Linked DNA regions of Homo sapiens. The protein of the gene in region 2 interacts with the protein of the main gene of each other region in a biochemical or structural test. Each region holds a gene or a part of one and is shown on either strand. Other genes may lie near its edges.

Evidence for each region.
Region 1: of the proteins of EML4 (region 2) and NEK7, one has a biochemical effect on the other in vitro, tested with the Homo sapiens proteins (one study listed by BioGRID).

What each region holds. Positions count from the first base shown.
Region 1 is NC_000001.11:198,257,055-198,262,121, forward strand, and holds part of NEK7 (serine/threonine-protein kinase Nek7), read left to right. Parts: intron 1-5,067. UniProt on the Homo sapiens protein: Protein kinase which plays an important role in mitotic cell cycle progression. Required for microtubule nucleation activity of the centrosome, robust mitotic spindle formation and cytokinesis.
Region 2 is NC_000002.12:42,258,833-42,263,899, reverse strand, and holds part of EML4 (echinoderm microtubule-associated protein-like 4), read right to left. Parts: intron 2,780-5,067; coding exon 2,606-2,779; intron 723-2,605; coding exon 594-722; intron 1-593. UniProt on the Homo sapiens protein: Essential for the formation and stability of microtubules (MTs). Required for the organization of the mitotic spindle and for the proper attachment of kinetochores to MTs. Promotes the recruitment of NUDC to the mitotic spindle for mitotic progression.

The DNA.
Region 1 (5,067 bases), on a different chromosome or scaffold from region 2:
CCTTTGTTCATTAATGCTTAATTTCGCTTTGCTTACTCTTAACTATATTTCTAGATAACACTATTTTACTGTGTGGCAGCCATTGTCAGTGAGTTTTTTTTAGGAAGAAAAGCTAAAATAATACTTTATGTATTTATACAAATAAACATAAAGTGATAATATTGTTCAGATTTACCTTTTGATTCAGGTGATCTCAAAAAGTCTTCCCCAAAGTATTCTTTGATATTGAATGCTTACCTTTTATTTACTTATGTTTGTTAGTTGCTTTAAAGTATTTTTCAAGCAAATAACTTTTTAATTTCTATTAATAAGTTACTTTTTATCATCTTAAGTTTAGATTCTGCATGTTTGCATATAATTAGAAATTAGGATTATATATGATCAGAAATTTGTGGACAATGATAGCACTTCCATAATACATAGGCTGATTTTAATATATTCGTAACCTCTGTGGCTCTGCCTTCAATCTCTTTTTCAGTGTTCATTGTGATTAATAAATTTATCTTGCAGCTTTTATGAACTTCATTTAATCTCTATAGACTTCCTTTCAGATTTCCAATTGTTATTTGAATAAATGAAAACTAAGCATTTGTAAGAATAATTCATAAATGACATTTAAAAGATACAGAACAATTTGGTAAATTAATGTTAGTTTTTACTTGTCAAGGTGGAATAGGCTTTTATCTTTAAAATTAAAGCTTTTTAATTTTAATTACTTGTACTTGCAATCTTAAGCATTTCTAAGCAGATAAGAAACAGAAAATTTCCAGTTTTATGGATTGTTTAACATTTTGGGGTTAAACTACTATATGGCAGACACTGTACTTGACAATAGGGACACAATAGTGGGACACAATAATTAAATCCAACATTTTTGTGTGGAAAATAGACAATAAATCAAATAATTATAGCAAAAAATAAATCAAATAATTATAGCCAAAAAGGAAATGACCATGCTGTGGTATTAGAGACAAACTAGAGGAGGAGAGCATTTTAGATAGAGTGTGCAGCAAAGGCCTCTCCGAGGATGTGAAATTTAAGCGTAGGTGGAGGATAAGGAGTCAGTCATCTGAAGGGTAGTGACAGGAAGGTTCCAGCTGTAGAGCCGGGCACGGTGACTCAACGCCTGTAATCCCAGCATTTTGGGAGGCTGAGGCGGGCAGATGACGAAGTCAAGAGATCAAGACCATCCTGGCCAACATGGTGAAACCCTGTCTCTACTAAAAATACAAAAATTAGCTGGGTGTGGTGGCACACGCCTGTAGTCCCAGCTACCTGGGAGGCTGAGGCAGGAGAATCGCTTGAACCCGGGAGGTGGAGGTTACAGTGAGCCAAGATCACGCCACTGCACTCCAGCCTGGAGACAAAGCAAGACTCTCTCAAAAAAGAAAAACAACAACAACAAAAACTTGCTTAGTATATATTTTTAAGTACTTTGTTTTCTGCATTTTAAATGGTCTTTCTTCTAACAATTTGACATATGCCTTTTTAAGGGGATATTTCTGTTAAGTTACTAGAAGGATTTCATTTCCTTTTAAAGAAATCTAGTGTTAACCTTTTCAGTTTCATTAGCTATGAGTAATTTTGGCAAAATTTTAAGATGACAAAAGAAAACCTTTAAAATGATTCAGAGAATACCAAGAATTTATCAGTCATTACTTGCCTAACCACAGCTCATCCCTTGCTCTTACCAAGTATAAAATGAGTTTAAAAACCTGAAGAAACTTTGGTGGAGCTGAATGAAAATGATGCCTCCTAAAGACTTGTTTGTACATATTATATGCAAGATATTCTTACAAAGTCCATATTTTCACCCAAGACATACTGCTTTTTCTTGCTCATGAAATCATCGGACAGCTTTGAATCTGTGTTTGGGAATGATGTAATCTAAATATTCATTATTATTTATTTTTGTCTTGACTTGTTGGCTGAGAGAAAAAGAAAGATAAGATACTTCTGAATTTCCAGTTAAATGTATTTGTAAATGTATTTTGCTCAGAATTTAGTTTTGCTTTAGATGTGCCATCAATGCTTATTTCTCCCTGTGTTTGAGGAGTGACTTTTGATATTATTGAAAATTCAGTTAAAAATAAAAGTCAATTTGTAATTCTAAATTAATTTTTATAACTTGAATTAAAGATTTTCTATGTAGCATGTTTCTATCTTGATATGTTGTATCTTGTTATGGTTTCCTAAAACTCTTATACATCTATTATTCATTCTTATCTCACTCACCCTCTTTTGTTTTTAAAAATGTTGTTCCACATCATAGAGACATTGATTACTGAGAGATTAAATACATATATGTCTCCAAGTTTGTGATTTTCTTCATTTTAATTACTGGTACTATATGGGCATTATTCTTTCTCTGCCTCCTAAAACAAACAAACAAAAATACCAGGAATTACATCAAGATCTGATATACTTACAATTTTGTGCTTTCCAGTATATCTTTGATTTATCTCAAATTCCTTGTAAATAGCATTTCCTGAGAATGGCATCAGCATTTATGATGTGTCAAGAATCAGTTATTTCTCATGCCATTTTGATTTAAAGTGCAAGTAGTCTGTGTGTGTGTGTTTCATACCTATAACTAATATCAAGTTCAAATTTTTCTGTTTCCATTAGTGTTTGTTTTATTGTTTAACATGTTGATATAATAATCCCTTTGGGGGAATGAATGGCATTTCTATGTGAAATTGCTAAATGTAAAGCTTATTCCTTCAGTTCAAGAACTTTCGATTTTACACACACACTCACACACACACACACATATATATTTTCCTGAAGGGCATTACGCATTCCTGCTTATATAAATCAGTTATTGAGAGCCCTTCCAGCCAGCCATGCTCACCCCCATTAAGGTTCTTACATCACTTTGAACAAGTAGCACTTACAAGTTGCGTGTTAATTTTCTGTGTTGCAGTCTGCATTCTGCATCTGACACTGTGCATCTTAAAGGACTGCAAGATGGTTTTCTTATTTGTATCTGTAATAAAATCTGATAGTAAGATGGCATTCAGCATGGATTTTTATATGTAGAAAGGGTGGGCATTAACAGTTTAAGCTTGTCTGTACTCAGGATCAGGTTATTCATATTAATAATTTGTGTGTAGAGTTAAAACTATGATGCTCTTGGAGAAAATTTCTGCAAGGTTTTTCCTTCCTTCCATAAATAGTGTCATATGGTTTGTTCTTTAATACTGGTAATTTTTTTAACCCCTGCTATTGGTGTCCATTTATATCTAGCTCATTTTGTCAAAGCTTAATGTATACAACAGCTTAATGTTAGCTAAAACATATCTTACTAGATAGTTTATGTGAACTTTGTGATAGTGATTTGCCACTCATAGTCCTTTCCTTTTTTTTTTTTAACCCCTTTTCCTTTCCTTGCTGTTGTTTCATCGTGTTGCATTCTGTTCCATTCTGAAATCATGGTAGTTAACATGAGTTTACTGTGGCTGACATGGTTAGAATTACTGCTAATGGAAAAAAGAGAAGTTAACTCTCTTTAATATATGTACCGGCATACATATTTCTTCTTCTGTTATTTGATTAAGTGGGAGAAACTTTGATGTAATCTAGTCTGTCTCTTTTTGTAAACCATCAAGTAAGGTAAGGCTTTATATTTTTTCAAATCTTAAACTGCAGTGCTCAATATTTTACATTAAAAGTTGCAGAACGTAAATTTGATACTTGAAGTTTTCATTAGAAGTAGTAGAACCAAAATAATGTTAGTGAAAAAGCATATATATCATTTTATATACTGCTATTTTCACTATGCAAAAAGCACATGCGTTTGTACAAGAAATAGAAGGGACTGAGCCAAAGCTAAAATTCTTTAAGGCAGTGAGTTTATGGATTTTATTTTTGCTTTATAATCTTATCTAATATCTTCATATGGTTTTTTAAATTAAGACAAATTAGAACTTTGTGTATCTTTGGATATTAAGAATGATATCTAGAAAAAGTTGCCTCTTATAAGCTGTAATTTTACACCCTTATTCCATATTTACTTTTATGCAGTAGATATCTTTTGTTTCTGACTGGCAGAATCCTATAATTCTTTCAAGGTTCACCTCTAATGGTACCCGCCACCCTACATGGAAGGAATTTCTTCCTTAGGTTTCTAATACTACACTTTGTACACACATATATTTTAATACTTATTAGCTAGTTGTGTATGCATTAGACTTTGTGACAGCCTGGCTCATTGAGAAAACACTGACTATGGAGCTAGAACAACCTGGCTTCAAGTCCTGATTCTGTCCTTTACTAGTTTTATGATCATAAGCATATTATTTAATCTTTTTGAGCCTCAATCCTCATCTTGTTATTGTGGCCAATACTACCTGTCTTATAAGATTGCAATGAAGTTTAAAGCATCATGTGTAAAGAGGCCAGCCCTCTCTGGTAGTGTCTAATAACTACTTCTTTAATTAAAAAGACTTGGATTCTGCCACTCCTTTGACATTGTACCTTCTTTTCCTGGAATGTTAGCTGGCTGAATCAGGAAGACTTGATCAAGCTGATTACTAAAAATGTCATTAATTTTTTTATTTGTTATGTAACTAGGGTTTTAATCAGCTTGCAGTACTGACTTAGATTTTTTTTGCAGTCTCTAAGATATTGCTTTTTTAAATGTTATTTTCCACACACTTAGAACCTTGAGAGATTTGTGTTTTCAGAGACACATGAAATATCTTTTTGATTGTATTTTTTATTTTTATGTTTTTAACAGTAGGTTAATATTTTTCAACCTTTTCTTCATTATCCTCCCCCCAAGCTGCCTGTTTAGACATTTCTTCCTAATTACCTCTACCCATGAAATTTTAATTCCACAAATACAGTATATCTGTTTATGTGTAGTACTGTATGTGTATCTATACTTTATACTTAATAGAGTAAAATTTTGTTACCCTTCTCCACAAAGAACCAATTTTCACCCCCTTGGAATGATATCACCCTTGTCAAGAATGCATGCATCAGACCTTTTAGACATGATTTGATGGAACAGATTAATGGTTCAGTGCTTGGGTTCTAGATGGATAACTCTGAGAATGAATT
Region 2 (5,067 bases):
AAATTAGCTGGGCGTGGTGGTGCACACCTCTAGTCCCAGCTACTCGGGAGGCTAAGGCAGGACAATCGCTTGCACCTGGGAGGCGGAGGTTGCAGTGAGCCAAGATTGTGCCACTGCACTCCAGCCTGGCAACAGAGTGAGACTCCATAAGAGAAGTATAAATTATAATACAGAGTTTTTAAAAAGATTCAAACCAAGGCCAGGCGTGGTGGCTCACGCCTGGAATCCCAGCACTTTGGGAGGCGGAGGCAGGCAGATCATGAGGTCAAGAGATCGAGACCATCCTGGCCAACATGGTGAAACCCCGTCTCTACTAAAAATACAAAAATTAGCTGGGCATGGTGGCACGTGCCTATAGTCCCAGCTACTTGGGAGGCCGAGGCAGGAGAATTGCTTGAACCTGGGAGGCAGAGGCTGCAGTGAGCCAAGATGGTGCCACTGCACTCCAGCCTGGCGACAGAGCAAGACTCTGTCACAAAAAAAAAAAAAAAAAAAAAAAAAGATTCAAACCAGACATACATAACTGTACATGCAAACATAATAGCCAAATAATTATTACTTTTCAGATATAATGAAGAAAGTGCAATACTTACTTGTCTGCAGTTTTGGTAACTTTTGGTATTAATTTGGGTGTTGAAGGTATTTTCGACAATTTATTACGGCTATCATCTGAATTTTCCCAAGAATTATGTGACTTTTCAGCTGGTGATGGTCGTTTTATGCTAGAAGGAACATTAATTTCTTAGAGAAAAATTCTGAGTATCAAAGACATGTAACTGACAATTTAAACAGAACACAAAAGCAGCAATTAACATTTCCTTAAAGCTAATCCAGAAAAGAGAAGGATTAGTTGAAAGACTGCCTGGATGAGTGAAGGAGTTAAACAAGGCAATTCCCAAATCTGTATTATAATTTTCTGTATCACTCAGAAGATTCACTAGAACAAATATTACCTGATTTTTTTTAAAAAACACTTTTGTTAACAGAAAAAAATTATTTCCTTACATCTGAGTAATGTTTCTTATAATTTGTAGTTACAAAAAAACCTGTATTTTTTCATAGCCATTGAATTTTATAAGGCTGCCATTTTCATTTTTTGTGCAATTATGTCCTCAGGTAATTACATTACATATGGTACAAATGACAATTTCTAAATATAACAAGGTATAAACTCTTGTTTATATCTTTAGGGACAATTTTACCAATGATCAGAAATAAACAAGACTTTATATAAGAATGTGGTTATTGGCAATCCTGATTCCCTATACTTATAAGTGAAATTTGTTTCTTTACAAATGATTTTTTCATTGCATTGCTAACTATCCTCAAACTCATCCAGTCTCCAATACTTCTTGCAACAGTATATCCAAAGAGCAATTTAGGAGGGCAAGCACATTTCCAGGAGACCTCAAGAAGCTGAAAAAAAGATGCTGGGACAAAGAAGATATCAAGTGAAATCAGAACCTTAAAGAGACTGATTATAAAAAGCCACCTTAAACCACACACAATCCAAAGTTATGTAACGTTAATAAGCTATATCCAAGAAAAACTCCACAGGAGACCAGGCAGATAAACTACAAACCATTTAGATTGGGTAAGAATCTGCATGAGACACACAGACAAAGCATTTTGTAAGTGGTAAACATGCATCGATCAAGTGAAGGGTATTTTGGTTTTCCCAATTTCCATTAGCGATTTGAGGCAAAATATTAAATTGATCAAATAAAAATTTAAATCTTTTAGGAATGGTTGTCATTTATTTTATTAAAATTCTAGCCAGTTCTGGAAATGGTTTAATAGTTTCCTAAGATTTCCAAGCAGAAGTACGATGATAAAATATGACTATTCCTAATCACAAGGCTTGAATAAGCATTTCTAAACAGGCAAATTTAATTAGATTGGTCTCAATATTTGATTAGGAGGCAGCTGTAGCACTGTACTCCCAGCATGCAGGTTTAGATTCTCAATTTAGGCTCACACACATTGTTAGAATATTTCTCCCTTTTCCCCTTCTCATAACTTTAAAATATTAATTATTACGGACACAGAAGCCCTCAAGCAAGCCTTTAGCATAGAAAAGACCAGGTGAAATGGATTCATTTCTCTACTCAAGCAAGAACTTATCCTCCCAAGACCCAAAACTGAAACTGAGATGCAGCCACAGTGAAGAGCCACTTGAGATGGGCCCTTGCAGGTTGAAGGTTGTAATGATGCCAAAATACAGTGAGGACAATTACATATGGCCATTTTCTATCCATGGCTATAAATTTATGCATAGTTACATACATATTTTAAAAGTATTCAAAAATGTGGTTAAGAAAATATTGTTTGGTTTTCGACTAGGTTATTCCTGCCTTCTTTTCATCAGATTGTTTATAACTTAGTTTTTTTTTTTTTTTTTTCCAGTTTTAACTGAGAAATTGTGACCTTAATTCTTTATTCCCCAATGGGCTATAAAGCATAAATTATAAGCAATGAAGAAGGGAAAAATAAAGCCACCAGCTTTTTCTCTCAGAATCCTTGGATAGCTAACTTTTTCCCAAGTCACAGAATTTAGGTATCATTACAACCATTCCCTAGCTCTGTACTTGGGGACAGTTAAAACCTTTTGGTGGGAGTAGCATTCTTGCTTTCTGGAGTTTGTCTGTGTATTTGGAGAGGTTGTGAAGAGGGCTGGGGAGAAGGTGATGCTCGAATTTGTGGACTTTGATCATTAGAATGAGATTCCTCTTTTTTTTCTCTCTGTCCTTGTGGTTTTTCTTTCTTTTTTTCTGTACCACTGTAAAATAAAGTATAACATGGAACAATACACATTTAAACAAATGAAAAAAAATCAAACGATAGAAAAGTGATTATTATATAATTCAAAACCCTAAGTCATACAGCTAATACAATTTGCACTGTTTTCATTCAATAAGGACAATATTTCTTTGAAAATTCCAGAAGCTATTAACATCTTCAGTAAAGAATTTATAAAAATTCTAAGGCGATACACCCCATGAAGATTGCCCCTTTAGACAGAAATGGTCTCTAATAAACTTTGCCATCTTGGCAGATTTTGGGGGACAAATGAAGGTCTCTTAACTGACCTCAAGTTACCCAAATCAGAGGACTATCTGTGTAAAGCATACCGACTGATGCCAAAAGAACACTAAATATTCATGTTTAATAGGTTATTCTCCAATTCCTGTTTTTTTTCTGTATACTTCTACTCCACTCAATTGAGTTTTAAACTTACCAAGAGTTTAAGTTTTCCCCAAGTCTGTTTATGCCAGTTGTTATTTTAATTATGTAAGTTAATTAAATACAAAGAGAATTGCAATTTCTATGAAAACTAAGTTTAATGTTCTAGAAAGACTACAAAAAAAATGAGTTATCAAAAAAATTGCTGTTAAATTTAGTGTGAGTGACACAATTTAAAAAATCACAGAGGCGGCTGGGCGCACTGGCTCACGCCTGTAATCCAAGCACTTTGGGAGGGCGAGGCAAGTATCACCTGAGGTCAGGAATTCAAGACCAGCCCAGGCAACATGGTGAAACCCCGTTTCTACTAAAAATACAAAAATTAGCTTGGCGCAGTGGCATGTGCCTGTAATCCCAGCTACTCGGGAGGCTGAGGCAGGAGAATCACTTGAGCCAGGGAGGCGGAGTTTGCAGTGAGCGGAGATTGCACCATTGCACTCCAGCCTGGATGACAGTGCGAGACTCCATCTCAAAAAACAAACAAATCACAGAGCCCGGGTGTGGTGGCTCACACCTGTAATCCCAGTACTTTGCGAGGCCAAGGCAGGAGGATTACTTGAGCCCAGGAGTTCAAGACCAGCCTGGGCAACAAAGTGAGACTCTGTCTCTTTAAAAAAAAAAAAAATTGGCCAGGCACAGTGGCTCACGCCTGTAATCCCAGCACTCTGGGAGGCCGAGGTGGGTGGATCACGAGGTTAGGAGATCAAGACCATCCTGCCTAACATGGTGAAATCCCGTCTCTACTAACAAATACAAAAAATTAGCTGGGTGTGGTGGTGGGCGCCTGTAGCCCCAGCTACTTGGGAGGTTGAGGCAGGAGAATGGTGTGAACCCAGGAGGCGGAGCTTGCAGTGAGCCGAGATTGCGCCACTGCACTCCAGCCTGGGTGACAGAGCGAGACGCCGTCTCAAAAAAAAAAAAAAAAAAAAAAAAAGAAAGAAAGAAACAAAATCATAGAAAGAGAGATGCGTTCTAACATACTCTTCTGCCAGAGTTTTAAATTTCTTACTCCTTTCATTTCTGAGAAATGAAACTAAAAATTTTAGAAAGTTATTTATGGATATATTTTATGAAAGACAGTCAACAAGGAATTTGATCAGAGATATATACTTAGAGGGTAGGTTTGGTCTTTCATTTAAAAAGTGATGAATGAATACAGGTGAATGTATCTTATGTTAAAATATTTCAGATATTTAAGTATAAATTCTTTTGATTATGTACTTTGACTCTTGGTTAATAAACCACCTGCTATTCCTAACCAGACTGGATAAGCATACTTATACTGAAAACACTCTTGACAATATTATAAAGCTGATGGAATCAAGACTTGAATTCCAGTGATGAAAAGGTAGGAAACTACTAAATGCCTATTTCTTTTCTCTGCCGCCCCCCTCCCCCTGTTTTTTTTTTCAGATGAAGTCTTGCTCTGTCATCTAGGCTGGAGTGCAGTGGTATGATCTTGGCTCACTGCAACCTCCATCTCCAAGGTTCAAGCAATTCTCCCACCTCAGCTTCCCCAGCAGCTGAGATTACAGGCGCCCGCCACCACACCCAGCTAATTTTTACATTTTTAGCAGAGATGGGGTTACACCATGTTGGCCAGACTGGTCTCAAACTCCTGACCTCAGCTGATTCGCCTGCCTCAGCCTCCCAAAGTGCTGGGATTACAGGCGTGAGCCACTGCATCCGGTCCCATTTACATGTCTTTCTTAATCAAAGGACATTTTGTAATTCGATTATAATCAACAAGTAAGCTTGTTCAAGAACATTTTAAATAAATGTACATAGTATATACAATTTATCACATTATAATAGTTTAAAATG